4 linked regions of the Homo sapiens genome follow. The protein of the gene in region 2 interacts with the protein of the main gene of each other region in a pairwise test. Each region holds a gene or a part of one and is shown on either strand. Other genes may lie near its edges. The genes, in order: RNF34, DNAJA3, SMAD9 and FAM131C.

What was found.
Region 1: the proteins of DNAJA3 (region 2) and RNF34 interact in a two-hybrid assay, tested with the Homo sapiens proteins (one study listed by BioGRID).
Region 3: the proteins of DNAJA3 (region 2) and SMAD9 interact in a two-hybrid assay, tested with the Homo sapiens proteins (one large-scale study listed by BioGRID and IntAct).
Region 4: the proteins of DNAJA3 (region 2) and FAM131C interact in a two-hybrid assay, tested with the Homo sapiens proteins (one large-scale study listed by BioGRID and IntAct).

What each region holds. Positions count from the first base shown.
Region 1 is NC_000012.12:121,399,965-121,407,385, forward strand, and holds the start of RNF34 (E3 ubiquitin-protein ligase RNF34), read left to right. Parts: upstream 1-153; 5' UTR 154-248; coding exon 249-254; intron 255-2,074; exon of another isoform or gene 2,075-2,131; intron 2,132-2,777; exon of another isoform or gene 2,778-2,834; coding exon of another isoform or gene 2,835-2,843; intron 2,844-4,884; exon of another isoform or gene 4,885-5,149; intron 5,150-7,421. UniProt on the Homo sapiens protein: E3 ubiquitin-protein ligase that regulates several biological processes through the ubiquitin-mediated proteasomal degradation of various target proteins.
Region 2 is NC_000016.10:4,426,222-4,433,642, forward strand, and holds part of DNAJA3 (dnaJ homolog subfamily A member 3, mitochondrial), read left to right. Parts: intron 1-7,421. UniProt on the Homo sapiens protein: Modulates apoptotic signal transduction or effector structures within the mitochondrial matrix. Affect cytochrome C release from the mitochondria and caspase 3 activation, but not caspase 8 activation.
Region 3 is NC_000013.11:36,908,370-36,915,790, forward strand, and holds part of SMAD9 (mothers against decapentaplegic homolog 9), read right to left. Parts: intron 1-7,421. UniProt on the Homo sapiens protein: Transcriptional modulator activated by BMP (bone morphogenetic proteins) type 1 receptor kinase. SMAD9 is a receptor-regulated SMAD (R-SMAD).
Region 4 is NC_000001.11:16,065,619-16,073,039, forward strand, and holds part of FAM131C (protein FAM131C), read right to left. Parts: intron 1-7,421.

The sequences.
Region 1 (7,421 bases), on a different chromosome or scaffold from region 2:
TCCCTGTCGCTTCATTGGCTCTGGTGACCGGCCTCCCGAAAGTCGGCTTCCTATTGGTCGTCGTGGCCGCCGCTCTGCGCTTTTACCGGGGCACGCGGCGAGCGTGACCACGCCCCTTACGTCCGGACGCTCGGTCGCCTCCCGGGGCGCGGTAATCACCGCCCAGAGGGAAGGAGGTCGGCAGTGTGAGGAGCTGCTATGGTGCTGAGTTTCCTGGTAGAGCCGGCCGAGCTGAGGCGGTCGCGGCCATGAAGGTGAGGGGCCGGTGGAGCCGGACAGACCCTCCTCGCCAATCCTATCCTGCCAGGGCACCTGAAGCGCCTCCTTTCTTTCCGCCTTAGCGGTTACCTAGTCGTCATCTCGGAGAGCTGCGCTGAGGGGGGTCGCTTGCCCGGCTTCAGGTGCCCCAACCGAGCCAGGGCAGGCTGCCGGACCCTCTCGAGCTCCTCCAGTGCCACCCCCGTCAGCGACCCGAGCGGTGGGGAGAAGCCGGGCGTCCCTAGCGTTCGCGCCGGGTGGGCCCCTCTCTGCGCCGGGCCCTGTGCGCCTCCTCGGGGGCCTGAGGCAGAGCCGCCAGGGCTCGCCTGAGCCTCGGTCCCTTGGCGCGCGGCGTGCCCTTTCCCGCCCCGAGTCCTTGAACTAACCCAAGTGTTGGGGACATCGTGGGACCGAGGAGAACAGGAGGGGTGCAGGGGGTGGTGAGGCTAGGGCCAGGCTAACGGGTTAAAGAACTCTCAGGGTGGGGATGCCACCCGGAAGGGGTGCTTCGTAGGCTGCACGTCGGGGCCGCGAACTAGAGAAGGCTGGATGTGCCTCCATCGCCACTAGGTAAACGCAGCAAGGAATTTGGCAGCTTGAGTTCTCCAAGGTGGGAGTGAGAGCGTGGGAGCATTACTGATGAGAAGTTGAAGAAAAGGGGAAAGGGGAGCGGGGTTTCCGGCCTACTTCTGAGAGATGATTCTCAACCCGATCACTGAGAGTTCTGAAGAGCTTTGTGAACAGCAGTCAGTTCAGGGTATTGATTCATTTGCCGAACTCAAACCAAGTGGGATGAGTCATAAGGTGATGATAACTTTCAGACCTAGATGGTTTCGTTAATCTCAGTGCAGAGGTGTGCTGGGGGTGGGTAATCTAGCAGGTGAGCTGCTAGATTAACGCTGTCTCCATAAAGCGTCAAAGATTTACTATAGAAGATTGAAAAAGAGTGTCAGCTGGTCACAGAAATTCAGCACATGTTTTGTTGAACGTTTTCTGTGCGTTAGCCAAGAGGGAGACATGGTGAAGAGAAGTAATTCAAAATACAGTCTCATCCCTTAGGAAGGCAGTTTACCATTCAAAAGAAGAGTTATTTGTAAGTAACCATATTACAAGGCAGAAGGCTATAGGTATCAAAAAAAAAAAAAAAAAAAAGGCAGGGACAAAACACAGGAGCCAGAAAGGATACTTCTGGCTACAGAAAGCAAGGAATATTTTTGGAATAGGTAACTTTGGAACTGTGCCTTGAAGTATGAGGATATTGTAAAAGCTTATTTTTAACTTTCCAGTTTAGTTATAAAATATTATTACAGCTTGAAATATCTATTAAAGTATCTAGAAGTAGCTTTATTTCCTGAAAACCACCCTCTGCTGTGTTAAGATCCAAAAACAAAGCAGGGATCTTTATATATAATGCCTCGAAGAATCAGTATCTTTATTAATATTAAATTTGTGGCCCATTAAGGAACTAGCTATCGAAGGAAAGAATTAGAGACAGGTCCAGTGTTGAAATTTTTAAACAAGTTCTTTGAAAACAGACGTGTGTTTTGAATTGAAGTGGAAGGTACTACTTTCTAAGATGAAATTTTAGAAACAAAGTTTGGTGGCAATTGAAATTATAGAAAAGATACGTATTTTCAGAAGCAAAATATGGACCTGAATAGACATCAGCCTGTGCCAGATGACAGTTATAAATGATGCTTTTGTTTTTGTGAAACTGGATTTACACCATTGAGGATTTGGGCTGTTAAATGTTTATTATTTAACTTAATGTTGATTTATATTGAAATTGTTTAATTGTGGGTATGCTCATCTGTAGATTTCTGGGCAGAGACTGATTCCTGATGTCATGGAATGCTAACATGTGAATGTTCATGTAAGGAAATACTTCTTTCTGTGGAATTAAAATTACATTAAAAGCTAAGCAAGTATACCTGGCCGGGTGCAATAGCTCACGCCTATAATCCCAGCACTTTGGGAGGCCAAGGCAGATGGATCACTTGAGGTCAGGAGTTCGAGAACAGCTTGGCCAACATAGCAAAACCCTGTCTCGATTAAAAATTATTTTAAAAAGAAAAAAAGGAAAAAAAAAGTTAAGCAGTTAAAAATAAACAAGAAAAGCTAAGCAATTATATGGATAAGTACATGTTCACTCAAACCTGGAGCAGCTGGTTTTAGTATATGTACGGAATGGGTATTTACTTTCTCCCTTTGGCGTTTTGGTTTGGTTTGGTTTGGTTTGGTTTAGAAACTGATGTTTTGAAATAGGTCTTACCTCTCAGACTCAAGTAACTTTTTAACCTTGCAGTAACATCCAATCAACTTCCTATAAGGGATTAAAAAAAAAAATCCAAATTGGTGCCCTGTGTTAATTTGATTTAATCCTCTTTCCCATTTTTCCTTATTTATATTGATCTCACCATTAATTGTGCTAATCTGGGTTCTTCCAAGCTCAAAATGAGATATCAAGGAGAAAGTAATCTACTGAATGTAATTCCTTTTCCTTTTTTTTTCTCTGAAAGGTGGGGGAGTGGTACTAAGGATCAAGTATACTGTTAAAAGAAAACAAAAACCCAAGCATGAGGAAGGTAACATTTGTATCTATAGCACATGTTATTGTAATAATCGATCAGTTTGGCCAATGTCTTGTCTAAAAGTATTACATTTTAGAGTTCATCATCTGTTTTTGCAACCTGCTTAATGTCCAAATGGTATGAGAGAAATAATTTAGGATGTAGAATTCCTTCCTTTGTGGTATATGGTCGGATATTTGGTCACTAAGAAAGAGTTAGGTCCCTGCATATTGTATTTCAGTTGAAGCAGCAGTTTTGATAAGAAATCCTTTCACATTCTAAGGAGCATATGTTTCTCAAATGGCTCTAAATAGGATAAAGAGGCCGGGCGCGGTGGCTCACGCCTGTAGTCCCAGCACTTTGGGAGGCCGAGGCAGGCAGATCACAAGGTCAGGAGGTTGAGACCATCCTGGCTAACACAGTGAAACCCTGTCTCTACTAAAAATACAAAAAATTAGCTGGATGTGGTGGCGGGCGCCTGTAGTCCCAGCTACTCTGGAGGCTGAGGCAGGAGAATGGCGTGAACCCGGGAGGCAGAGTTTGCAGTGAGCCAAGATTGCGCCACTGCACTCCAGCCTGGGCAACAGAGCAAGACTCTGTCTCCAAAAAAAAAAACCAAAACAAAAAAAAAAAAGGATAAAGATTTTGCTTTTTTATCAACTGTTTTTTCTGCTTTGCTTTTAGTTATGTAGGAAAGTTTAACCTAACCAAGATTAAACTGTAAAACCGATTATTTTATATCACCGTTGCTAAGATTTAATACATCTTTTTCCTGTCGTTTAACACAGGACATTGAGTTTTAGCAAACTGAAGGTTGTCCAGAGTTTGAAACAAACCCTGGACATATAGTGGGTGAGTTCTCTGAGGAAGCTTTCATTGATGGAAGAACAGTATCGCTCCTTGGTCCTTGTAGATTCATGTAGCATCTGAGACAATTATTTTTGAATTTAAAACTTCTAGGTTCATCCTTAAAATAACTGTGTAAATAATATATTTAACTTAGAGTTATGGCAAGCAAGGTAGACGCTTATGAGAAGAGTCTATGGGTTTATTATTACATTGCTATTTACCTAGTTTAATAAAAAGTGAATGACTGTGTAGTAACATATTAGAGTTTTGGCAAGCAAGATAGACTCTTACGAGAAGAGTCTATGGCATTATTATTACCTTGCTATTTACCTAGTTTAATAAAAAGTGAATGACTTAGATCATTTAGTTTTCTGTTTCTTTTTTTTTTTTTTGAGATGGAATCTCACTCTGTCGCCAGGCTGGAGTGCAGTGGCACGATCTCAGCTCACTGCAACCTCTGCCTCTCGGGTTCAAACAGTTCTCCTGCCTCAGCTTCCCAAGTAGCTGCCATGCCCGGCTAATTTTTTTTTTTTTTCTTCGTATTTAGTAGAGACGGAGTTTCACAATGTTGCCCAGGCTGGTCCCAAACTCCTGAGCTCAGGCAGTCCACTTGCCTTGGCCTCCCAAACTGCTAGGATTACAGGCTTGAGCCATGGCACCTGGCCTAGTTGTCTGTTTTCATACTCATAAACTTTCTTTTCCCACTCTCCCCCTATACTTCTCTTGTGTCTGGCTGTCATTTAATCTTTTTTTTTTTTTTTTTTTTTTTTTGAGATGGAGTCTCTCTTTGTTGCCCAGGCTGGAGTGCGGTGGCACCATCTCAGCTTACTGCAGTCTCCGCCTCAAGTGATTCTCCTGCCTCAGCCTCCTGTGTAGCTGGGACTACAGTTGTGCACCACCACACCCAGCTAATTTTTTTTGGTATTTTTAGTAGAGACCGGGTTTCACCATCTTGGCTAGGCTGGTCTTGAACTCCTGACCTCAAGTGATTCTGGCCTCCTAAAGTGCTGGGATTAGAGGTGTGAGCTACTGCGCCCAGCCTGTCATTTAATCTTCATGGAAACTACCATAGCTTTTCTGATTCTTCGTTCTAGTCTGGCTGGTTGATAATATATTTAATGGAATCATTAAAAGTTTAGGGTTGAAAATTTGTGGTAAATTTGTGAATTCTTTAAATTGAGCATTTTGAAGTATTTTCTCCCCACAGGGATTCTGAAAACATATTAGATTATACACACACAGAAGCAAAGACAGCTGAACCTTGAGGCCATTTGAAAATCCTGGCACTGTGCCAGAAAGAGAGCTGGGCTGCTGCTCTTGCAAAGAAACAGAACACCTTTCCTCTTGCTTTTGTTGACTGTAATGATGTTTCATGGGCTTATATTGTTTGACTCTGACTGAGGAACCTGAGAGAGTCCTTATAACCTTATTGGCTGGAAACTGTCATTCCTACTCTTACGCAGATTATTTAGGTTTGTATTCTTTCCCCTCCCATTTGCTTCCTCTCCTTTGCTCCTACAGAGGGGAGGGGGCTTCTAATTCATTTTTGGGGAGGGAACAGTATGGGAGAAACACTGTCAGTCTCTGCTATGGGAGGAAAAAGAGGGACTTGAATATTGAGGAGTTTCAGTGAAGGAACTGACATGCTTGGCTCAGTACTTTCTGGGACCTTCTCACATTTGTCTTCCTGTAGTGAAGATGGAGTTCTGGTCTCCACTCAACTAGCTGGTAAGCTGCTCTTGGTCAGCTGTATATTATCCAGACTTGGCTACAGAGCTAAGGTTCTGTTCTCCAGTTGATGCTATCAGTAAAAACAAACATTTTAATTTCCATTTGTCTTCTTGCTTTTTTTTTCTTTTTGAGACAGGGTCTTGCTCTGTCACCTAGGCTGGAGTGCAGTGGTGCAATCTCTGCTTACCGCAACCTCCGTCTCCCAGGTTCAAGCAGTTCTCCTGCCTCACCCTTCTGAGTAGCTAGGATTACAGGCATCCACCACCATACCTGGCTAATTTTTGTATTTTTAGTAGAGACGGGGTTTCACCATGTTGACCAGGCTGGTCTGGAACTCCTGACCTCAGATGATCCTCCTGCCTCGGCCTCCCAAAGTGCTGGGATCACAGGCGTGAGCCACCGTGTCCGGCCTCTGTCTTATTTCTTTTTTTTTTTTCTTGAGACGGAGTCTTGCTCTGTTGCCCAGGCTGGAGTGCAGTGGTGCAATCTCGGCTCACTGCAAGCTCTGCCTCCCAGGTTCACGCCATTCTCCTGCCTCAGCCTCCTGAGTAGCTGGGACTACAAGTGCCTGCTACCACGTCCAGCTAATTTTTTGTATTTTTAGTAGAGACGGGGTTTCACCATGTTAGCCAGGATGGTCTCGATCTCCTGACCTTGTGATCTGCCTGCCTCGGCCTCCCAAAGTGCTGGGATTACATGAGCCACCGTGCCCGGCCTGTCTTATTTCTTAATTAGCTCCAAATTGGATGTGGAAAAAAGGTACTGTTACTGGCTCCCTAAAATCTTGGTGCACTGTCTTTGAAGAAAAGAGGAGAACTGGCATTGGATACCAGAATGACATGAGGATATCTAGGTGTCTGAGGCAGTCCAGGCAGGTTTTAGAATTTGATTTCTTATTATGGAATGTGTAAGTTGTTGTTGTTGTTGTTGTTTGAGACAGACTCTTGCTGTGTCGCCCAGGCTGGAGTGCAGTGGCGTGATCTCAGCTCACTGCAGCCTCCGCCTCCCATTTCAAGTGATTCTTGTGCCTCAACCTCCCCAGTGGCTGGGACTACAGGCACTTGCCACCACGCCTGACTAATTTTTTGTATTTCAGTAGAGATGGCGTTTCACCACGTTGCCCACGCTGGTCTCGAACTCCTGAGCTCAAGCAATCCGCCCACTTCAGCCTCCCAAAGTGCTAGGATTACAGGCGTGAGCCACCGCGCCGGGCTGGTGTTAAGTTTTTAAATACGATACCTGGTTTTTAACTGATATAAGCCAGGCAGACCATGGTCCTATGGTGGCTCTACTGAGAGCAGCTTTGGCTTAAGAGAGTGGGTAGGAAAGGGATTAGACTATCAAGAACAAGTCATTTATTTTTAGTAATCACTGATGACTAGAAAATAAACTCCAAACACAGGTGAATTCTCTGAGCTTGGAGTTTTGTGCTAGGCATAGGCAGACAGTTGCCTCATTCTCTTATTCTCTATGTTGTTTTAAACTACATTCATGGTCAAGAGAGGAAATTTAGCTATCTTCACGATTATCGTTCTTTTTTAAAAATATAATTTCAACTTTTAGATTTGGGGGTACACGTACAGACTTGTTACATGGGTATATTGAGTGACGCTAAAGTTTGGGGTACAGTTGGTCCCGCCAGCAGGTAGTGAACACAGTACCCAACAGTTAGTTTTTCACCCCTTGTTCCTTTCCTCCCTCCTTCCCCCTCCCCCCAGATTATTGTTCTTTCTAAACTGTTAGAAAAAGGGTTATACTTCTTACATACCACTTGGATGCATGTGGTATAACCCATGGAGTTTTGCTGCCAACTAAGGTCCCCAAGTAGGTCATGAAAGCCCAGATCATGGCTTGCATTTTGAAAGTTCCAGACTTTTCAGAGATCTGGCTTTGGGCTTTATTCACGGAGGAGTAACTGTAGGGTTTTTTTCCCCCAATGAACAAATAATGGATGGTGACCCTTCCATAAAGAAGGCACCACTTTGGAATTGAGGCCAGTGAATTGACTGCAAA
Region 2 (7,421 bases):
AGACACAGACAGGCAGGAGGCGGGGAGGCCCCAGTGGCTGCTCAGCCGTCAAGGAAGGGAGAGAAGCGTGGAGCCCCCGGCGGCGGTGATGAAACGCCCCGTAGATCGTGAACCTTCACCTCTCTGTCAACATTTCTGGAGGCCGCTGCTCCCTCGTCCTCTTCCTTTCCCATCTCTCCACCTTCTAGCCCGTAGCGGAAGGGAAGAGCTAACTGCCATTCGGAGAGGCCTAGGTACTTTGTTACAACAACCCTGCAAGATGCCTGCCGTCATCACCATTTTAAAGAATGAGAAACTGAGATTCAACGGAGGAATCGACCAGCCCAAGGTCATGGAGTTAGACTAGAAGAGTTGTCTCAAACCCAAAGCAGTCATGTCATAGTTTACGCTCTTTCTACCACGTGGTGCTAATTGAAGGGCACAGTTAACAATCTTTTTAGAAGTCTTTAGTTGGTGATTGTAATAATAACACAGTCAGACATTTATTGAGCACTTACTGTTGGCCAGGCATGGTTTTCCCCTTACATCACATTTCCACATGATAGGCACTGTTATTCCATTTTATAAAGATACTGAGGCTTAGATGTTAAACCACTTATAAATGTCACAAGGAGGTGGAGGCTTGATATCATTGCCTGAGATGACACTGAATTATACATTAAGCCTTGAAGTGCTTAGTCATGTTTTCTTTTCTTTTCTTTTCTTTTTTTTTTTGAAACTGAATCTTGCTCTGTTGCCCAGGCCGGAGTGCAGTGGCTCAATCTCGACTCACTGCAACCTCCGACTCCTGGGTTCAAGAGATTATCCTGCCTCAGCCTCCCCAGTAGCTGGAACTAGAGGCATGCGCCACCACGCCTGGCCAATTTTTGTATCTTTAATAGAGACGGGATTTCGCCATGTTGGCCAGGCTGGTCTCAAACTCCAGACCTCAGGTGATCCGCCTCCCCTTGGCTTCCCAAAGTGCTGGGATTACAGGCGTGAACCACCGTGCCCTGCTTAGCCTTCTTTTCTTATGCCGTGTGTTTTGTGCTGTGTGTTGTACGTACCTGAATTGTGCTAGTTTTGTGTCCTCTAGAATTTGTGCAAATGGTATTTAAGCTATCTATAAATTTATAAAGATTAATTAAAGGGCCCTGACAAGATAATTTATACCAACTAACTTCCTGTTGCAATCCAGTTTGTAATAGTTACATAGTAGACAATCATTAAAGTATCAGTAATTGTGGTTACTTCATGCAATGTAAAGAAAAGAGCCTGGGCTTCAGGGGTGAACTTCCCCAGCGTCTGTGAGCGGGGTGTATTATTTAACCCCTTCGAGCACCTGTCTGAAAATTCATTCATTCACAGGTGTTAATTGAGGCCAATTGTATGCCAGCCACTGTTCTGGGCACTGAGGAGATGGCAGAGAACAAAGAGATTGGATGTGTGTTTGGTTAAGAGAATGATTATTTATGTATTTAATTATTTTTTAAGACAGGGCCTCCTGTTGCCCAGACTGGTGCAGAGGCACAATTACAACTCAGTGCAACCTTGACCTCCCAGGTTCAATCGATCCTCCATCCTCAGCCTCCTGAGTAGCTGGGACTACAGGCATGCACCACCACACCCAGCTAGTTTTCTGTAGATGGGGTTTCACCATGTTACCCAGGCTGGGCTAAAGTGATTCCCTTGCTTCAGCTTCCCAAAGTGCTGGGGTTACAGGCATCAGCCACTGCACCTGGCCAACAGAATGAATTTTTTTTTTTTTTGAGACGGAGTCTCGCTGTGTTGCCCAGGCTGGAGTGCAGTGGCGCTATCTCAGCTCACTGCAAGCTCCGCCTCCCGGGTTCACGCCATTCTCCTGCCTCAGCCTTCTGAGTAGCTGGGACTACAGGCGCCCGCCACCACGCCCAGCTAATTTTTTGTATTTTTAGTAGAGACAGGGTTTCACCGTGTTAGCCAAGATGGTCTCGATCTCCTGAACTTGTGATCCACCCGCCTCAGCCTCCCAAAGTGCTGGAATTACAGGCTTGAGCCACCGCGACCGGCCTTATTTTTATTTTGAGATGGACTCTTGCTCTGTTGCCCAGGCCAAATTGCAGTGATGTGATCCTGGCTCACTTCAGCCTCCCAAGATGCTGGGCTTATAGGTGTGTGCCACCATGCCAGGCTAGATTTTTCAACATGAGCAAAAGTGGCCATTTTTAGAGCTTGCTAACATTTTCTAATGTCAAGGTTGTTTTAAATAGAATCTGGCTGCATCTTTTCATTCAAATATTAATCCTTAGGTGACTTGTTTTATTAAGCCAAATTTGTTCATGTTCCAGCTGTACAAATTTGGGAGCACTCGTTATTATTGTGTATGTGAAAGAGAGAAACAGGCACTAAACACTAAGCTTTGTGTGAAGCTGTGACTAAGGAACTGCGGTTAGCTGTCTTGTTCCCCAAGTGAGCTCATAACCTGCCATGGGCAAGTTTTATATCAGGTAGTGTACACAGGTGAGAGGTGGCATCCTTCAGGGTACGTGCTGTTTTCACAGATAGAGTCATCAACTGGTTGGGCGGGGTGGCTCACGACTGTAATTCCAGCGCTATGCTGGCGCTGAGGCAGGAGGATCACATGAGCCTAGCAGTTTGGGACCAGCCTGGGCAACATAGGCAGATCCCATCTCTACAAAAAGATTTTTTTTTTTTTTTTTTTTTTTTGAGACGGAGTCTCACTCTGTCGCCCAGGCTGGAGTGCAGTGGCACGATCTCGGCTCACTGCAAACTCCGCCTCCCGGGTTCAGGCCATTCTCCTGCCTCAGCCTCCCGAGTAGCTGGGACTACAGGCACCTGCAACCGCGCCCAGCTAATTTTTTGTATTTTTAGTAGAGATGGAGTTTCACTGTGTTAGCCAGGACGTCTCGATCTCCTGACCTCGTGATCCACCCGCCTCCGCCTCCCAAAGTGCTGGGATTACAGGTGTGAGCCACCGCGCCCGGCCAAGATTTTTTTTGTTTGTTTGTTTGAGACGGAGTCTTGCTCTGTAGCCAGGCTGGAGTGCAGTGGTGCGATCTCGGCTCACCATGATCTTGACTCACCGTGATCTCGGCTCACCGCATCCTCCGCTTCCTGGGTTCAAGTGATCCTCTTGCCTCAGTCTCCTGAGTAGCTGGGACTACAGGCACGTGCCACCACTCCCAGTTAATTTTTGTATTTTTAGCAGATACTGGATTTCACCATATTGGCCAGGATGGTCTCGATCTCTTTACCCATGATCTGTCCACCTCAGCCTCCTAAAGTGCTGGGATTACAGGTGTGAGTCACCGCGCCCGGCCTACAAAAAGATTTTTAAAAATTAGCTGACTGTGGCCGGACATGGTGGCTCACGCCTGTAATCCCAGCACTTTGGGAGGCCTATGCGGGCGGATCACCTGAAGTCAGGAGTTTGAGACCAGCCTGATCAACATGGAGAAACCCCGTCTCTACAAAAAATACAAAATTAGCCAGGCCTGGTGGCGCATGCCTGTAAACCCGGGTACTCGGGAGGCTGGGGCAGGAGAATTGCTTGAACGTGAAAGTCGGAGGTTGCCGTGAGCCGAGTTAGCGCCATTGCACTCCAGCCTGATCAACAAGAGCGAAACTGTGTCTCAAAAAAAAAAAAATTAGCCAACTATGGTGGCAACTGCCTGTACTCCCAGCTGCTTGGGAGGCTGAGGTGGGAGTTTCACTTGAGCCCAGAAGGTTGAGGCTGCAGTGAGCCATGATGATGCCACTGCACTCCAGCCTGGGCAACAGAGTATGACTCTTTCTCTACCAAAAAATTAATAAAGTCATCAACTGAGAAGCCATGTGGTGGCGAGCCTCTATAGTCCTAGCTACTCAGGAGGTTGAGGTGGGAGGATTGCTGGAGTCCAGGAATTTGAATTTGGCCTAGGCAACATAATGAGACCCCTGTCTCTTAAAAAAAAAAATTTTGAAAAGGTCATTAACTCAGCGTCCAAACACTAGTCTGTGATCTTGTCTCAAATCTAGTAGTAAGATGACATAACAACATTTTAGATGTGACTTTTCTTCCAAGCAGAAAGAAAGCAGTTGTTGGTGGCCAGGTATGGTGGCTCATGCCTGCAATCCCATTACTTTGGGAGGTGGGTTGATCGCCTGAGGTCAGGAGTTTGAGACCAGCCTGGCCAAGATGGCCAAAGCTTGTCTCTACTAAAAATAGAAAAAGTTGGTCAGGCGTGGTGGCGGGTTCCTGTAATCCCAGCTACTCGGGAGGCTGAGACAGGAGAATCGCTTGAACCCAGGAGGCAGAGGTTGCAGTGAGCCGAGATCGCGCCACTGCCCTCCAGCCTGGGCAACAAGAGCCAAACTCCCTGTCAAAAAAAAAAAAAAAGAAAGCAGTTGTTGGACAGTGGGTTGGCCATTCTTAGAACGACTTGGAGGCTTATTTTATTCTGGGTTGTTCTAAAAAGGACAGGACATTTACTGGTCATATGTGATAAAATAAATAGTCTATTAAATGAAATCTAATTATTGTTAATCATTGATGCCCTATGGATAATGTCAAAAGTCATCAGACTGGGGATGGTGGCTCATGCCTGTAACCCCAGCACTTTGGTAGGATGAGGCCGGCGGATCACTTGAGGTCAGGAGTTCGAGACCAGCCTGGCCAACATGGTGAAACTTCTTACCTACTAAAAATACAAAAATTAGCCAGGTGTGGTGGTGTGCGCCTATAGTCCTGGCTACTTGAGAGGCTAAAGCAGAAGAATCGCTCGAACCTGGGAGATGGAGGTTGCAGTGAACCGAGATCACACCACTGCACTCCAGCCTGGGTGACAGAGTGAGACTCTGTCTCAAAAAAAGAAAAAACAAAGCCATCAGTCTTGTAATTAAACGTGATTTGTCTTTATCCACATGCAGTTTTGTGCGTTACTATCTCTGTACTAACTCCTGTCCGTGTTCTCTGCCCGTAATGTTGAAGCCACAGCTGCCACAGGTCACTACCAGCCTCCGCCTTGTGGCATTGGAATGAGTGGTGAGAGAGAGGCTGGACTGGGCCGGGCAACCCCTTACTCCGAAATAAAAAGAGGGTTGAGTACAAGTTCAATAATAAGTCAGGTCTAGTGTTTTCTCAAGTCTGACTGAAGAAACACAAAGTGGTCTCCTGACCCCTACTACTTCCAGTGTGCTTTTTGTATCCCGAGGATATTGGGTGTGCCAAACACACGGATTTATTTCCTATTTCTAATTTTAAGTATCCTGACCATTCCTATCCATTCTCCTGTCTGATCATCCTTTACCTGGCCTCCTACTTGGATGTGCTCAACCAACCTCTGGTTGTGTTTTGTGCTGATTAACTTCGAGTAGTCTCCCAGGCTTCCTAGAGTTGTTTCTCTTTTTTTTTTTTCAGGTGGAGTCTTGCTCTGTCGCCCAGGCTGGAGTGCAATGGCGCGATCTTGGCTCACTGCAACCTCAGCCTCCCAGGTTCAAACAATTCTCATGCCTCAGCCTCCCAAGTAGCTGGGATTACAGGCGTGCACCACCATGACCGGCTAATTTTTGTATTTTTAGTAGAGACAAGATTTCACCATGTTGGCCAGCTTGGTCTCGAACTCCTGACCTCAAGTGATCCACCCGCCTCGGCCTCCCAAAGTGCTGGGATTACAATAGGCGTGAGCCACCTTGCCTGGCCTAGAGTTGTTTCTCATGCAAACCTAATGGGTTCTTTGTTTAACATTTGCAGTGGCTCCCTATTGCTCTTAGGATAAAATCCAGACTCCTTAGCATAGCTCTAAGGCCCTTCCTATTCCTAGGCCCCATTAATCGTTATCATCTCTAACCACCACTACCACCACTGCCATCTAGTTTAGTTATAGGTATAAATCTGTATGGATTCAAAGTCCTCTTTAGCCTATTTCTGTCTCTCTCTCTTTTTTTTCCATGTCATAAGTTTATTTACAAACATCTAGTATGTCATATAAGTTCAAGTCTTTGATCCATTTATTTATTTATTTTTAATAGAGACAGGGTCTCTGTGTTGCCCAGGCTGGTTTCGAACTCCTGGGCTCAAGCGATCCTCACGCCTCAGGTTCCCAAAGTGCTGGGATTACAGGCGAGAGCCACTGTGCCCAGGCTTATTTTTCTTTCTTTTTTTTTTTCTTTTTTTTTTCTGTGATGGAGTTTCACTCCTGTTGCCCAGGCTGGAGTGCAATGGCGCGATCTTGGCTCACTGCAACCTCTGCCCCCCAGGTTCAAGCGATTCTCTTGCTTCAGCCTCCTTACTAGCTGGGATTACAGGCATGTACCACCACATCCGGCTAATTTTGTATTTTTAGTAGAGATGGGGTTTCTCCATGTTGGTCAGGCTGGTCTCTAACTCCTGACCTCAGGTGATCCGCCCGCCTTGGCCTCCCAAAGTGCTGGGATTACAGGCAGGAGCCACCATACCCGGCCCGGCTTATTCACTTTTTAAACAGATTTCATCTATTAAAACACCTCCAGTCTGGGCGTGGTGGCACACGCCTGTAGTCCCAGTTACTTGGGAGGCTGAGGCAGGAGAGTCGCTTGAACCCAGCAGGCGGAGGTTGCAGTGAGCCAAAATCGCACCACTGCACGCCAGTCTGGGCAAGAAGAGCGAAACTCCGTCTCAAAAAACAAAGAAACAAAAAGCCTGCCGGGCACGGTGGCTCACGCCGGTAATCCCAGCACTTTGGGAGGTCGAGGCAGGCGGATCATGAGGTCAGGAGATCGAGACCATCCTGGCTAACACGGCGAAACCCCGTCTCTACTAAAAATATGAAAAAATTAGCCGAGTGTGGTGGCAGGCGCCCGTAGTCCCAGCTACTTGGGAGGCTGAGGCAGGAGAATGGCGTGAACCCGGGAAGTGGAGCTTGCAGTGAGCCAGGATGGCGCCACTGCACTCCAGCCTGGGCGACAGAGCGAGACTCCATCTCAAAAAACAAAAAACCTGCTCTTCCTATCTGTTAAGTGGATGAACTAAAACATCCTTGTTTCTTAAGCAGTTGGTGTCTTGCTATTAAAAAAGGTGCTGTGAATCCAGATCCAAAGTACAAAGTCATCCTAGTTAGTAACCGCCATTTGTTTTCCACTGAAAGTGGCAAATGCTTTCCTGGGCAGCTTAGCCAGTTTCTGCAGCTTAACAGCTGATGCCTAGAAGTTCTTCCCCGACCTTCTTAGATTGATTTGTCATTGGTTCTCAGCAGGGGACACTTTTACTTCCCAGGGGACATTTGGCAATGCCTGGAGACGGGGAGTTCTCTACTGGCATCTAGTGGGTGGAGACCTCCTGAGTTTCTGGTGAATGTCTGGAGTAGGGCTTGAACATCTGTGTTTTCATCAGTCTAATGATGCTGTTGGTCCAGGGAGCGCAGTCTTGAGAACTGCTCCTTAAGTAGATACCCAAGGCTGCAAGATAGAGGGAAAAGAATGTGGGG
Region 3 (7,421 bases), on a different chromosome or scaffold from region 2:
AACTGTGAGCATTCTGAAAGAAGACAGAAATACAAATTTCTGTTATGCTAAATTTTACTAATACCCCAGAGTCTCCATGACTTCAAATCAATTGAAAAGTTCACAAAATTCAAAATTCATTCTTTCATAAAACTGACTTTAGGATCCCTCCTGGAATAGGAATATAACAGAATAGAATCTACTACATAAAAATATTATTGGGTTAAGTGAATTTACCTTACAATACACAACTAAATATGAGAATATTTGAAGTTCATTTTAAAAATACATCATCATCACTCCTGAATTTGGGTATACTGTGGCCCAGAGGAAGTGACATAATAATCGCATCTGATAAAATAGTCAAAAGGAAAAAAAAGAAGTGAAAATAAAAACAAATTAGCAACTAAACAACTAATTATGGTGGGAGGAGAAAGAACACACACAATCTCACTGTAAAATCAGAGACTCTCCAATAACGGCTGGATTTTTTATATTCACACTGAATTTCACATGAAACTGAAGGCCATGACTACAAGGGATATATGTGGCCCAAATGAAGACTCTTGGTTTACCAGGCAGCCTTGTGCTCATGGCAATGAAGTACTATGGTAAGCAGATGTCACTGGAATTTATACTTAATAAGCCACTTGGGAAGCCTTGGTCTACATTTACTTACATCCCTAAAATACAGTTCTCTTGGCCACTCGTACAGTTTTTTTGGCTAGAATGTTACTATTGATTGGATATCATTTTTAAAGTTTCAACGGAGATTTTGAATTATTTTTTAAATTAAAGAAACTAGATACAGTTTTTATTGTTGCTCATTATCACTTCTTTGGAAGACAGAACCACTATTCCATTGCCTGTTTGCTATGTAGTGAAAGGGAAGTAGAATGGGCATTAAAGCAGCAAAGACAGGAGTCTAAAGGTCATGCCCAATAGTTTGGGTCACTTAAGGTAGGTTTAGAATGTTCTATATTTTTCCATGTAATAGTCTGAATATTAAGATCATATTTAAACATTTCAGTGATAAGCCAACATAACAGTGATACAAGAGAAGGCCAGCACTACCTTGTAGAGATCATGGTGTAAGTTTCTAGTATTGCAACCTACATTCTTTACACATACGTAATAAACTGTATATAATTTACACACACATATAGTCAGCATATTCTTGGAAACACTGTATGCCACCCCACAAATGTGTTATTTTATTATTTAAGTTTGGAAGGGCCCACAATTTAATGCTTCCAGAAGCAAGAGGCAACATGATATAATGAATAAAACACAAGAATGGAGGAAGAAGACTCCAGTCTGAGTGCTAGTACCATCACTGTCATCTTCAAGTAATTAGTCACTTCCATATTGTTTCCTCCTCTGTAAAATGGAAACAATAGTCACTACCTTTTGTGCAGAAGTACTGAGGGGATGTGAGAGAAAGCAGTTTGAAAACTGTAAACTAAGATAATATTGTATATTACCAACATGGAGGTATACTTCTGTTTATTCCTCCTGTAGGCTTCACTGTGGGAGTTAAGAGGTGCCCCAAAAATTAAAAACAACCGGCTGGGCGCAGTGGCTCACGCCTGTAATCCCAGCATTTTGGGAGGCCGAGGCGGGTGGATCACGAGGTCAGGAGATCGAGACCATCCTGGCTAACACGGTGAAACCCCATCTCTACTAAAAATACAAAAAATTATCCGGGCGTGGTGGCGGGCGCCTGTAGTCCCAGCTACTCAGGAGGCTGAGGCAGGAGAATGGCATGAACCGGGGAGGCAGAGCTTGCAGTGAGCCGAGATCGCGCCACTGTACTCCGGCGTGGGGGACACAGCGAGACTCCGTCTCAAAAAAAAAAAAAAATTAAAAACAAGCTCTTTAAACTAAAATTTAACCACCATTGACTCCAGGATCCTCAAATACACTATGTTCAAATGTAGAGATGGAACCATAGTGAATATGAGAAGAGGGAGGGATGAAAACACAGACCACAGAGAATTTGCAGGGCAATGAGACGACTCTGCCTGATACTACCATGGTGGATACACGTCATGATACACTTGTCCAAACCCACAGAATGTACACCACCAAGAGTGAATCTCCCAAATTTCTACTCTGAGTCTGTATCCATACATTTTACACTTAAAAGCCCACTAAATATCATGAGGTGGGGGTTGTGAGTTGACGCCTGTAACATCAATTTCAAATAAGGCTGTTCGCAATCTGGCCTCCCCAGACTACATTCCCAGCCTCATCTCTTTTCACTCCCTTTGCCCATCACTCCTTCCCTCCCTGCCCAGAAGGCCCCTGTGCAGCTCTATCTTTCCTGCTCCTTCTTCAAAACAGAGCTGGAAGCCAACTTCCTGGAAACCTTCCCTGGAGGCCCCCAGGCAACAGCACTGATCAGCTCTCTGCTGCTCCTCTGGGCTTCCACAGCACCTAACATGTGCTAGTCACTCACAACAGCACTTACCACACTTGAATCCCCAGATTTGGTAAGTGTTTTCTCCAGAGATGCCTAGCCTTCTATCAGGCCACAAGCCAAGCCACATTGTGGTCTGTACTACCTACCTAGCATGCAGGAGGCCATCAATAAATGTTGAATGAATGAAAGTAAAATCCAGTTTTATCAATACCATTAACTATTGTATTATTAATATTATTATTACTATTTTGAAAAAGGGTCTTGCTCTGTCACCCAGGATGGAGTGCAGTGGCGTGATCATGGCTCACCGCAGCCTCAACCTGCCAGGCTCAATAGATCCTCCCCCTGCAGCCTCCTGAGTATCTGGGGCTACAGGCACGCCCCACCAAGACCAGCTAAATTTTTAAAATATTTTTCTCATAGAAGGGTTTTCACCATGTTGTCCAGGCTGGTCTCAAACTCCTGGGCTCAAGCAATCTGCCCCCCTTGGTCTCCCAAAGTGCTGGGATTACAGGCATGAACCATTGCACCTGGCCAACTATTGTATCATTAAGCCCCATGTAATTAATTGAAGTTCTAACCTAAAGCCCATTGCTTTACTAACGCAATACAATAAATTTCTTTGAAAGACAGAATTATATAATGCATTCCCTACTTCCTATGCATAGTCTATCTACTTAAGGTAATATTATATAGAGCATAATCTGTCTGAATACTTGTAAAGTATTAAATGACTATAAATCATCTGTTTAATATATATATTTTTAATGATGTGTGGGCAATTTTTAAAATTTTATAGATGTGTGTCTCGAGGAAGGCTGTTTCCCGGCCAAAGGCTGCCTGGGGGGGGGGGGGGCGGGTGGAGTTCATAAACTGATAAAGAATCACAAATAAGCCGTGTTATGAACTGCTGTTCGGGGAAGCTCAATTTATTTTTTATTTTTTATTTTTTGAGACAGAGTTTTGCTCTTGTTTCCCAGGACGGAGTACAATGGCACAATCTCAGCTCACTGCAACCTCTGCCTCCTGGGTTCAAGCGATTCTCCTGCCTCAGCCTCCCCAGTAGCTGGGATTACAGGCATGTGCCACCACACCCAGCTAATTTTGTATTTTTAGTAGAGATGGGGTTTCTCCATGTTGGTCAGGCTGGTCTTGAACTCCCAACCTCAGGTTATCCGCCCACCTCAGCCTCCCGAAGTGCTGGGATTGCAGGTGTGAGCCACCGCACCCAGTCGGGGAAGCTCAGATTTTTATTTGCTAAAGAGAAGCATGAAGCAGTGGAGATGGTGTGTCAACTGCTTAGCTAGGAGTTGTGGCCATTTAAAAGCATGCAAACCACTTGAATTTGTCTTCACTCTTCCAAATACCCCTTTGATTATGTGATTCTTCTGTTCAAACCATTTAATAGTTATCATGACTACGGGTTAAAATTGAATAGTTCTCCTTTGCCTACAGATTAAATCCAAATTCCTTGCCCTTCCTTCCACCTTACCCTACAAAAACCAACCTATTTAGGGAAGAGAAAGGTGGGATCGTTGAAAACCCAACATATTTAGGGAAGTGAAAGGTGGAGTGGTTCAAGTATCAACAATGAAGTGGACACTACCCTAGCAGCTGAATATTTCAAGATAAGACATGGTCCCTTTCCTCTATACTACTATTGAGACAGCAATCTAAACATATTATTATCAGGCAAGTAATAGGTGCACTATTACAACAGTTACTAGAAGAGTGTATTCAAAGTGGTCTGGAGGCCCCTGGCTGGCTAAAAGGGTTGGGTGGGGTTTCCTATAGGACCAGCCATGCAAACTCACTCACCCTTGAACCAGTAAAGGGTAGCAGGGAAAAACAGGAGGAAACTGTACAAAGGCTGGATCCTCCTCCTGACAGACTCAGGAAGTAGTGAAATTCCATGGCCTAGGGATGTTCTCAGCATCTCTAAGTTCTCATAAGGACTTACTGAAAGAATCTCTTCCTGTTTATGTCTTCTATTTTACCTCTACCTTCTAGTTTACCTCCCAAATCCCAAATGAGATCATTCTCATTATCCTTGACAAGACTAACTAAAAATTCACACACAGAAAATACGGAAGTCTAATCAGGAAAAATACAGTCATCCCCAGGTATCTATGGGGGATTCAGTCCAGAATCCCCACAGACACCAAAATCCAAGGATGCTCAAGTCCCTCGTATAAAATGGTATATTTGCATATAACCTACCACATCCTCCCTTATACTTTAAATCATCTTAGCTTACTTATAATACCTACTATACTGTAAATGCTATGTAAATGGTTTTTATATCTTATTTTTTATTTGTGTTATTTTTAATTTTTTCTCCAATATTTTTCATTTGTGGTTGGTTGAATCTGTTGATGCAGAAACTGCTGACTCACAGGGCCAGCTGAATAGAGAAATAAACCCAAATAGATTACAGTTTGGGGAAGTAAGACATCTTACTATTGGAGAAATATTTTAATATTTGCTTTCTTGATCTCTTTCACGCTAACTACACTATGAAATCCTGGAGACTAGGATTTTATTTTTGTCACTTCATTTCGTTGTGTAGTCCCCAGGGCCTGTTCTGGGGCCTCATAGGCAGGGTAGACACAATAGACACAGAGTAAATAATGGTTGAATGAATATCCTATACAAGCCCCATAAATTTACAAGTTCCACCTTCTAAAGTGATTGCTACACCCACAAAATTGCAACACTTTAAAACCCCAAGATATAATCAATACAACTTTAAAAAAATAAAGTGTATTTAGAATATCTTGTAATAAAATTAGATGCAATGACAACAGAAAGCAAGTAAAACTGCCACTCCTTTGAAATAATACCAACTTGTCATTATTTGCAAACACAGCCAACACCTAATGACTGCTTTGTGTAAACATATAGTCAATAAGCTGAAAGGGAAGCATTCATGTCCATAAATGTTTGTCTTTGACAAATATTTTATTCAACTCCTATTCCTAAAAATAAAATTCTACTTCCACTAGAAAACAAAGAATGACTAAATGCATAAACAAGACAAAGAAAACCACATGAGACCTAAAATCTTTTTAGCTTAACACATTTTTCATCTTCCACATTCATTACCACCATTCTTGGCTTCTAATAATCACTTATGTCATTAATAATAATCACCCATATCATCAATCACTGGTGGTCTTGCTTTATGAACAAATGGTGTTCAATCCTGCATAGTTATTTGGAAACTGGAATTCACCTTCCCCTAGAACAATGTCATGAGTGCTAATGTACTTCCCTGGCCAGCTCACTAGGATCCTCTCAACTCACAACGCAGGTGCCTTTCATACTACTAACACTAATTCAAATATGTGATGTCTACCTTTGGCATCTGCCAATCTGCTTTCTGTAACACCCTCTTTCCACACTTAGGTGCCTCAAACTTCTCAACAGTGCTACTGCCCAAGCCTTAAAATGACTTACTCTCGGGCCAGGCGCGGTGGATCACGCCTGTAAACCCAGCACTTTGGGAGGCCGAGGCCGGCGGATCATGAGGTCAGGAGATCGAGACCATCCTGGCTAACATGGTGAAACCCTGTCTCTACTAAAAATACAAAAAATTAGCCGGGCGTGGTGGCAGGTGCCTGTAGTCCCAGCTACTTGGGAGGCTGAAGCGGGAGAATGGCATGAACCCGGGAGGTGGAGCTTGCAGTGAGCCGAGATGGTGCCACTGCACTCCAGCCTGGGCGACAGAGAGAGACTCCATCTCAAAAAACAAAAACAAAACAAAAAAAAACTTACTCTTCCTTCTTCCTTCCTCACTCCTCCTCTCAGCCAAACTCCAATTCTCTCACTGTGATTCTCAGCAAAGAAAGGAGCAAGATGAATTCATGAACTTATGATGAAGTGTACTGATAAGAGATGTCAAATATTCTGCCACAAAGTGGGAAACTGATGGAATCTGTGAATCCCTTTCTGCGTTACCATTAACTCCTGAAATGTGGTACTACCAAGTCAGTTAAATTTAGATACAAGAATTCAGAAAGCAACTCCTGGCACTTCAGTTGAACGCTACCATCCATCAAATGCTTCTTAAAAAAGACCTGCAAATCTGCTGTAAGCTTTCCATAGCCCACAAGTACGTAGGACAAAATCCTTTAGAATGACATTAACCATTGCACAATTATTGCGTTTTGTGAAAACAAATCAAAATACACAGTAACCAAAGTAAATCTGTATTTGATAGGCTTCTAAGCACTTTAACAGATGAAAAGTAAAAAACAGGCTGTATGGAAGAAGATATTCCATAGATTAAAGCAGTCATTTAAGGCAAATGGCCCAGTGTATCTAGGGATGTGCTCCTGGGGTCAGTGAGTTCAGGATGTGGCTACCTCACAGTGTTCACACTTCTACTACTTGCAAACTCTAAGTCGTCAGAATCCTCAACTCAGAATCCCCAATGTCACCAACACGTTTGAATGGCCGCAAGACCACATGTATGCTATCCAGATTCCTTTGTTCAGTGATAGAAAACTGGCAACTGGAGTCCTAGAATGAATGGGCATCCCTGGCACTCCTAGTGCTTGTAAACTGAAGATTGCTTTTCGCAACTGCAGCACCAAACTCTCCTCGGGACTGAGGAGTACATGTTTTCTATTTATAGTCCCTCAGAATTAAATATGAAAAAGAAAAGGAAGTGATCAGATATTAAGTATTAAATTTCCCCAAGGGGAAATTCACATAAAAATAATCCCCACCAGTGAATCAGCTAATCAGAGTACCAAAGAATGAGACAAAGAGAGAGAGAGAGAGAGAAGATTTTGATATTTAATATCTAAAAAAGAGGAATTGGAAATTGTCATTATAGGAAAAAATCAGAACTACATAGGTCTCCTTTACAATTATTCTTTGGGTTAAACTTTTTTCTTTGAATTAAATGTGGGCTGGGAATGAGGGGGAAGAACCATAATCTCTTCAGTGCTTATGACTTCTAAAGTGTTACAACCGTGTGCACACACATATACAATCCACCTTAATATTT
Region 4 (7,421 bases), on a different chromosome or scaffold from region 2:
TGGCCCCAAGCCAATGACTACCAGGTGCAGAACCCCAGCTCTTTTGTCTGGGATCCGAAAATTCCCCTTCACTTACCCTCCGGAGTACCCTGCAGGACCAGGCTGAGGCCAGGCCTGAGACCACCCCACTGCCTGGCTGGCCTCCTCCATCCTCCTCTCGCTCCATTCCCTACTGGCTTCCTCTGGAAGGTTCACCTCATATCAGTTGTACCCAAATCCTCATTTCAGGGGCAGCTGGCAGGGGGAAGGTAAGCATTCAGTTGGAGGTGAGATTAAGGTTTTCTTTTCTTTTTTTTTTGGAGACAGAATCTCGCTCTGTCACCCAGGCTGGAGTACAGTGGCGTGATCTCGACTCACTCTAACCTCCGCCTCCCAGATTCAAGCGATTCTCCTGCCTCAGCCTCCTGAGTAGCTGGGATTATGGGCACCTGCTCATTTTTATATTTCCAGTAGAGACAGGGTTTCACCATGTTGGCCAGGCTGGTCTCAAACACCTGACCTCAGGCGATCCGCCTGCCTCGGCCTTCCAAAGTGCTGGGATTACAGGCATGAGCCACCACGCCCAGCCTGAGATTCAAGTTTTCATCCCAACTGGATTAGACTTAGTTTGCAGAAGAGACCGTAGGTTTCTGGGATCCACCCAAAGGTAAGCAGGTGGGCTAGTCAAGGAGGCTGGAGGCAGAGACTGGAGCCAAGGAAAGATCTTATTGACCACCCCACCCATGACCCAGGCAGGCCTAAGGAGGTGAGAGCACCTGGGGCAGCACGGGATCCTGTGGACTGAGCCGTGCGCCTGCACACCATAGCACTCAGCTCATCTTGTTCTTTTTCCTGAGTCCCTGCTGTGTGACCCTGAGCTAGTCCTGCCCCTCTCTGGGCTCCAAGGCCTCCATTTCCACAAAGGCCATGTTGTCCAGGCCCTTCAAAGGCAATGTTCAAACTGGGGGTGCATATTTCAGTGGGTCATGCAGCCGTTTATTAATTAGGTCTTATTTTAATGAAATAGAATGGAATAGAATGGAAAATATCAGAGCCCACTGCAAGTCAGGTTAAGTATTACTTTATGAAGCTTCTGTTTATGCAAACACAAGTCTGTGCAGATGTGTGTGCACAACACACACAGAGTAAAAATTTTCTCTGTGTGTATTCTGGGTCATGATGCAAAATATATTATTCCTATGGGTCCAGTCAAAAAAGTTTGCAAGTTGCCAATCCTGAGGTTCTGGAAATTCTGCATGTCCTGTACAAGCCAGGGCCCGCCAAGGTGCAGACAGGTGGCTCTGGCCATAGGCTGACCCTAGGAACTTGAGAGGTGTTAGGGTATTTCTAGGACCCCTGGCCATCCCCTGAAGCTTTTTTACAACTCTCCAGCCACAGACCAGGGAGCGAGGTTGATGGGGAGGGGAGCCGGGCACAGAGGAGGCTGGTGGTGATGCCAAAGCCTGGCAGAGGCATGACTTGAACAAGGTCATTTGTTGAGACGGTGGTGGGCTTGGAGGACTCCTGGCTCCCACCCCCTCCCCAGCCCGCCTGGCTCCCCACCTCAGTTGGGGTTCAGGTGCCTCCACCAAAGCTGCCTGCTCCCCCTGAGGACTTTGGCCCCATGATGTCACAGGCTGGTTGCCATGGGGACGTCAGGTAATGAACCAGCCCAGGGTGAAATCACAGGCTGTTCTTCGCCCAGCTGGGACTGGTGGTCACGTCACCACTGGCAACTGGAAAAACACAGAGTGTCATGTGGGGTGGGGGCTGGGAGGCAGCCCGAAGGGACCGCTAGCACCTGCTCCTGTGGCTCCCTCTCCCAGAAGGACACCCCCTTTCTTTCAGTCCACACCCTAGTCTCCTGACCTCAAGGTCAGAATTCCCTTCTCAGACCTGCTCCCTCCCCCACCTCCTCTGTCCACAAGAGTGACAGGCTTCTGGCTGCCATGGCAACCTGGAGAGGGCCATCTTGATTCTTCAAGGAGAGGGTGTCAACCAGATGTCTCCTCCATCCCTCTGTCTTCAACCAGAGCTTCTCCTCTGCATCTTGAGGGTGCTTCCTGCCTTCCTATGCCAGCTCCTCTTCAATCTGCTTTAGAGTCTAACCTCCCAGACAGTTCCTCCTGATGTCTAGCCTAAACCCCTCTTGTTGCAGTTCCCATACTGGTTGGTCTTCTCTACTTGATCCTTGGGTGAGTCTGCAGCACAACCCCTCAGGCTCCTCTCGTCTGCTTCAGGGCCTTCCAACTCCTTTAAGCTGTTCTCTGGGGCTCCGTGTCCCAACCCATTAGTCACCATGGTTGCCATCTACCCCAAGAGTGCCTCCCAGGGCTCTGCACCCCAGAGGGCAGAGAGGGACCGTGTTTGACTCTGCAGCAGCCCAGGGAGGGTAAATATCCTCTCAAAACCACACAGAAACTGAGCAGCAGCCTGGGGTCAAAGCGTCCCCTCATGCTCCTCCCCGGCCAGCCTCGGGCTTCTCTGCTCAGCTTCTCAGGGCACCTGCAGCCGATGCGGCCCCTCTAGCCAACCATTGCCCGGGTGTGTACTGCCCAGCTGTGATGTGCCGGGCTCTGCCCTTGGCTCTGAAGAGAACGTAAGCGGCCAAGGCATTCCTCTTACGGTCCCTGAGCTGGGTTTAAGTCCCCGCTTCTCACTTTCCGCTGCAGGGGGTGGGCATGGGACTTAGCCCCTGTGAGCCTTGGATTCTCATCTGTGAAATAATACCAGCCCAGAAAGGGCTGCAGCAAGGAGGAAGCACCTGCCACAGCAAGCAGTCCGTAAGCAGCAGCCGCTCCACCCCTCTCCCCTCAGTGTCTCTCTCTGGACAATGGGACACATCTTGGTCAGCCACTCCTCTGGTCCTGTCCCCAGGGCTGGAGCTGGCTCTGGAGGCTCCGCAGAGGGAAGCCCTTGAGGGTGAGTCCTTGGCCGCTCTGCCTGTTGAGTCACTGCCAGGGGAGCAGGCCACAGAGCTTGGCAGAGGCCAGGCCTCGAGTGGACTGAGTGTCCCCTCCTCCCCAGGACATTTGTTTACAGGTCACCTGAGCCGTGACAATAGCTCATCTGTGGGTTGGCTCAGCTCAGAGCTATCCAAGGGGGTCCCTTTCTCTCCCCGTGCAAGGATGGAGAGAGAAAATGGGCTCCTCCCCAGGACTTCCACACACCCCAGCTCCTCCCCACTTCCTTCCCCAGGCTCCCTCCCATCCTGTGACCTGGCCTCTGGGAACATCTTGCTCCAGCCTCACCTCCCACAAGCAACCTGCCCAGATTGGCCTCTGCTGGATTAGGTACCTCACCTGTGGTCCTAATGGCCAAAGTCTGGCCTGCAGTGATTTGCCGCCACTGTTTACTGAGCAGGTGTGACAGTACTGTGTCAGGTACTGTCTGTCCTAGGCCTGTTCACCCATGATCTCTCATTTAACCCACACAACAATCCTGCAAAGTACATGTTATGCCCATTTTACAGATAGGGAAACGGAGGCTCAGAGAGGATAAATCACTTATGCAAGGTCACCTGCTAATAAGCAGCAGAGATGAGGGTCACACTTCGGCCCTTGTGAAACTCCAAAGCTTGTGCCCCAACCACTAAACAGTGCTGATCTCCAGACAGGGTCCTCGGGGCATCCTTCCAAGGGTTCATGCATACTGCCTCCCCCATTAGGCTACTCCACGGGCAAAGCTGTACCTCTCTCATCAGACTGTGAGCTCCCGAAGGGCAAGGTCCCACCTACCCTTTCCTCAGTGCCTGGTGTAGGACTGCTCAGGACTTGGAAACTATGGGTGGCTCTGGTCGGCCCCCTTAGAGCTTGTGCCTTCACCCAGACATGATCAGATGTCTGAGTTTCCAGAAGAAAATTCTCGGTCTCTAATTTCTACTCTCACCCCCGACCCCACCGGCCCCCAGTGCATTGGATACCCCCAAGGTGGGGCCAGGAGGCTGATCAGTTGGCCTGGAGGAGAGGGCTGGGGCATGAGTGAGGAGGCAGAGTGGTTATGGCACCAAGGGCATGGAGCGGGTACTGAGCCCCTGGAACTGGAGAGAAGGGGGGCAAATATTCCTCTCTGTTCCATACAGACTGCCATTGGTTGCAGAGCCCCCAACAAATAGGGACCATTCAAGTGTTCCAAGAGGTTGTTTTTCTAAGCACTGGCCATATACTTAGCACCTCTTTTTGTTTTTGAGACAGGGTCTTTGTTGCCCAGGCTAGAGTGCGGTGGAGTAATCACAGCTCACTGCAGCTTCGACCTCCTGGGTTCAAGCCATCCTCCTGCCTCAGCCTCCCAAATAGCTGGGACTACCAGCACACACCACCACAGCTAGGTAATTTTTAAAAAGTTTTTTGTAGAGATGGGGTCTCACTATGTTGCACAGGCTGGTCTTGAACTCGTGGGCTCAAGCGATCCTCCCGCCTCAGCCTCCCAGTATTTAGATTATAAGCGTGAGCCATAGCACCTCTCTCTCTATAGGGACGTAAGAAAGCAAAGGACGGGGTTTCCACACTCAGGCTCTGGGGTCACATTGACCTGGATTCAAGTCCTGCCTCTCCATGCCCTGGCCATGTGACCTGAGGGAAGACCCTCCCGTTCTCTGAGCCCCACATCCCTTGTCACAGGGTTGAATGAGAACTAACTAGGTCAGGAGAGCAAAGGCTCAGCCTAGCTCAGGATAAGCGCTCAACAAACGGTAGCTTAAAAATAGATAATGAATGCAAAATAGCTCCTGGAAACAGCATTTGTTGCCTTAATCTGGTCCCAATCACTTTCTCAATGTCCTCAGCACCTCGAGTGCCTGCCACCCGCTGCCTTTCCCATGAGGCAGGATGTGGCTTAAAACCTCTGTAGGTTTCCCCTTCCAGCCATGAAGGCCCACATTAGCTGTCTGCACAGACAGGTAATAAAAATTAAAGGCCGGGTGCAGTGGCTCACACCTGTAATCCCAGCACTTTGGGAGGCCGAGGTGGGAGGGTGGCTTGAGGCCAGGAGTTCGAGATAAGCCTGGGCAACATAGTGAGAGCCTGTCTCTATTATAATATATACAATATTAAAATTAAAAGTAAAAATGAGAGCAATAGCTAATATGTACGAGTGCTTACTATGTGTTGGGTACTGGTCTGAATGCCTTACATGAATTAAGCCATTTAGTCCGCCCAGCAACCCTATGACATCAATACTATTATAATTCCCATTTTAGAGATGGGAACACTGAGATACACACACAAGGTCAAGTCACTTGCTGAGGTCACAGAGCTAGTAAATGGTGGAGCCCTGCTTCGTATTCTGCACTCCTAGCCTCTCTACCAACTAGGCAGACGCTAACTGCTGCCGATGCTGGGATGGGGTGATTTTCCCAGGTGTGGCCTGACCTAGGTTTTGGGGTTTGGCTGGGTGGCCCCAGCTGGGTGCAAGCTCTGGGCTCAGTATGGGCATCAGCCTGAGGCCTGCAATCCTTGGCCTTGGCCAAGGGTGGACGCACTCCCTCCACCCTTCCTTCTGTAGCAGTGCCTACCTGGCCTAGGAGGCACTGAGCGCTCAGAGGCTATGATTAGCAATCGATTGCTGGTGCAGGGGCCAGGTGGGGGGCTCAGGAGCCCACAGCAGCCTGCAGCTCCAGGAGAGTAGACAGGTGCAGGCACCAGGGCCGAGGGCTGGCTGTGAGTGCAGAGACTGAGGCCCTAGGCTGTGGAGTCAGCATGCCATGGTTTAAATCTTGGCTTATACTATCCTAGCTGTGTGGCCCTGGACAAGTCACTCCACTGCCCTCTGCCTCAGTTTTCCCACTTGTAAGATAGGGACTGTGTTCATATATAACCCAAACTAGCTTTATCTGCCTAAAACTTTCAGACTAGTATGCACTCGGAGAGCATCAGTGATAAGGAGAGGGCAGGGTGGGTCAGTGATGCAGCCACCCAGAGTCTCTGGGACCCTGGCTGTCCCCTGCCCACATGGCTCCCCATATTCCTTTCACCTCAACCCAACTTTCCTGGATGCATGTTGAGACTGCCAGGGGCCCCGTCCTCTCAGGAGGGGGACAAGGCTGGACTATACAATTAGATCTGGGGGGCGCTGAGGAAGCCCAGGCTGCAGAAGGAAGGGTGGAGAGAGCGTATCTTGGCTGCTGTGGCCCCAAAGAGCCCTGGCAGAGGGGGCGGTGGAGGGAGCCCCAGGTGTGGGGTCAGAGGACCTGGGCCCCAGCCTCTCAGGGTGACCTTAGCAGGCGTCTCTTCCTCCCCGGCCTCTGTCCCATGCTCAGTGGGTTCTCAGCTCAAAGGCCAGTCCTTCTGGGCTGGGACCCCAAGGTGCCTGATATGGGGTGGCCAAGTGAAGGGGAAGGGACACTGAGGAAACACTCAGATCCCCTCCACCTGGAGCTGGCCCCAGCCAGAGACTGCCTAGAACCTTTGGGGTTTCTGGAGCCTGGTGCTCCTAAAGAACCCTCAGCACTCCTCACTCTTCAAACTTCCTTCCCCTCCCGCTAGGCTGCAGGCCTCCCGTACCAGGTGCTGTGCTGGGTTCCTTGCTGCTGGATGCCCAGCATGCACACGGTGCCTGGCACACGGCAGCTATCATGTTAATATCAGCTTAATGCATGGATAAGTAAAGGAACCCCACACAGCCTGACCCTGTACCTTCCCCTTCCCCAGCCGGGATTCCACCCCGATACCTCCCAGAGACATCCTGAGCCACTTACCTGAATGCCCACAGGAACTCCTGAGCAGAAGCCCTTCGAGTCCAGAGGATGGGGGAAGGTCATTGTGCTCCTTGCTCAATACCCCCAGGACAAGGTCCCCTCTATTCTGGGTAAGCTACTAGGGGTGATGGGTGTGGTGGTGGTCAGTGGGTTTGGCCTCAGCCTGCAGAGCCTGAACCAAGGCCAAAGCCACCCCCACTCCCAGTCACACCCCCCTGATCCCACTGTGGGGTGAACAGACCAAGGTGGGAGAAGGGCTCAGCCCAATCGCTTGTCTAAAATGTTGCCCAACAGCCTGTTGGAAAGCTGGTGGTGATGGGTGGGGGTGGAGGTAGGGGGCTCCAAAGACCAAACTGCCCATCCCCCAATCTCTGTGCAAGACTGTGTGTCCCCTCCTCACAGATAGAAGAGGCTGGGGCCTGCCCTGGGCCCCCAGGCAAGGGCAGGTCCCCTCCACCTCCTTGGGTACCACGTGGGGGAGAGTGGAGGGTGACAGGTCAGACACAGAGAGAAAGGCCCAGGGGTAACTGGGAACATCAGCTGTGCTCTGGCCCTTCTGTCCCCTGTCCAAGGATGGGGGTGGGGAGGAGGATTAGGGGGCAGGGGAACCTTCTTTATAACCTGTGCCCCACCATTAACCCTTTCCTGCCAACAGGGTTCAGGGGCTCTGCAGATGGGGGCACCCGGTAAGACGTGGGAAGGGGCTGTGGGGGTGAGCTGGTAAGACCTGTGTCTTGGGGAGGGGTGG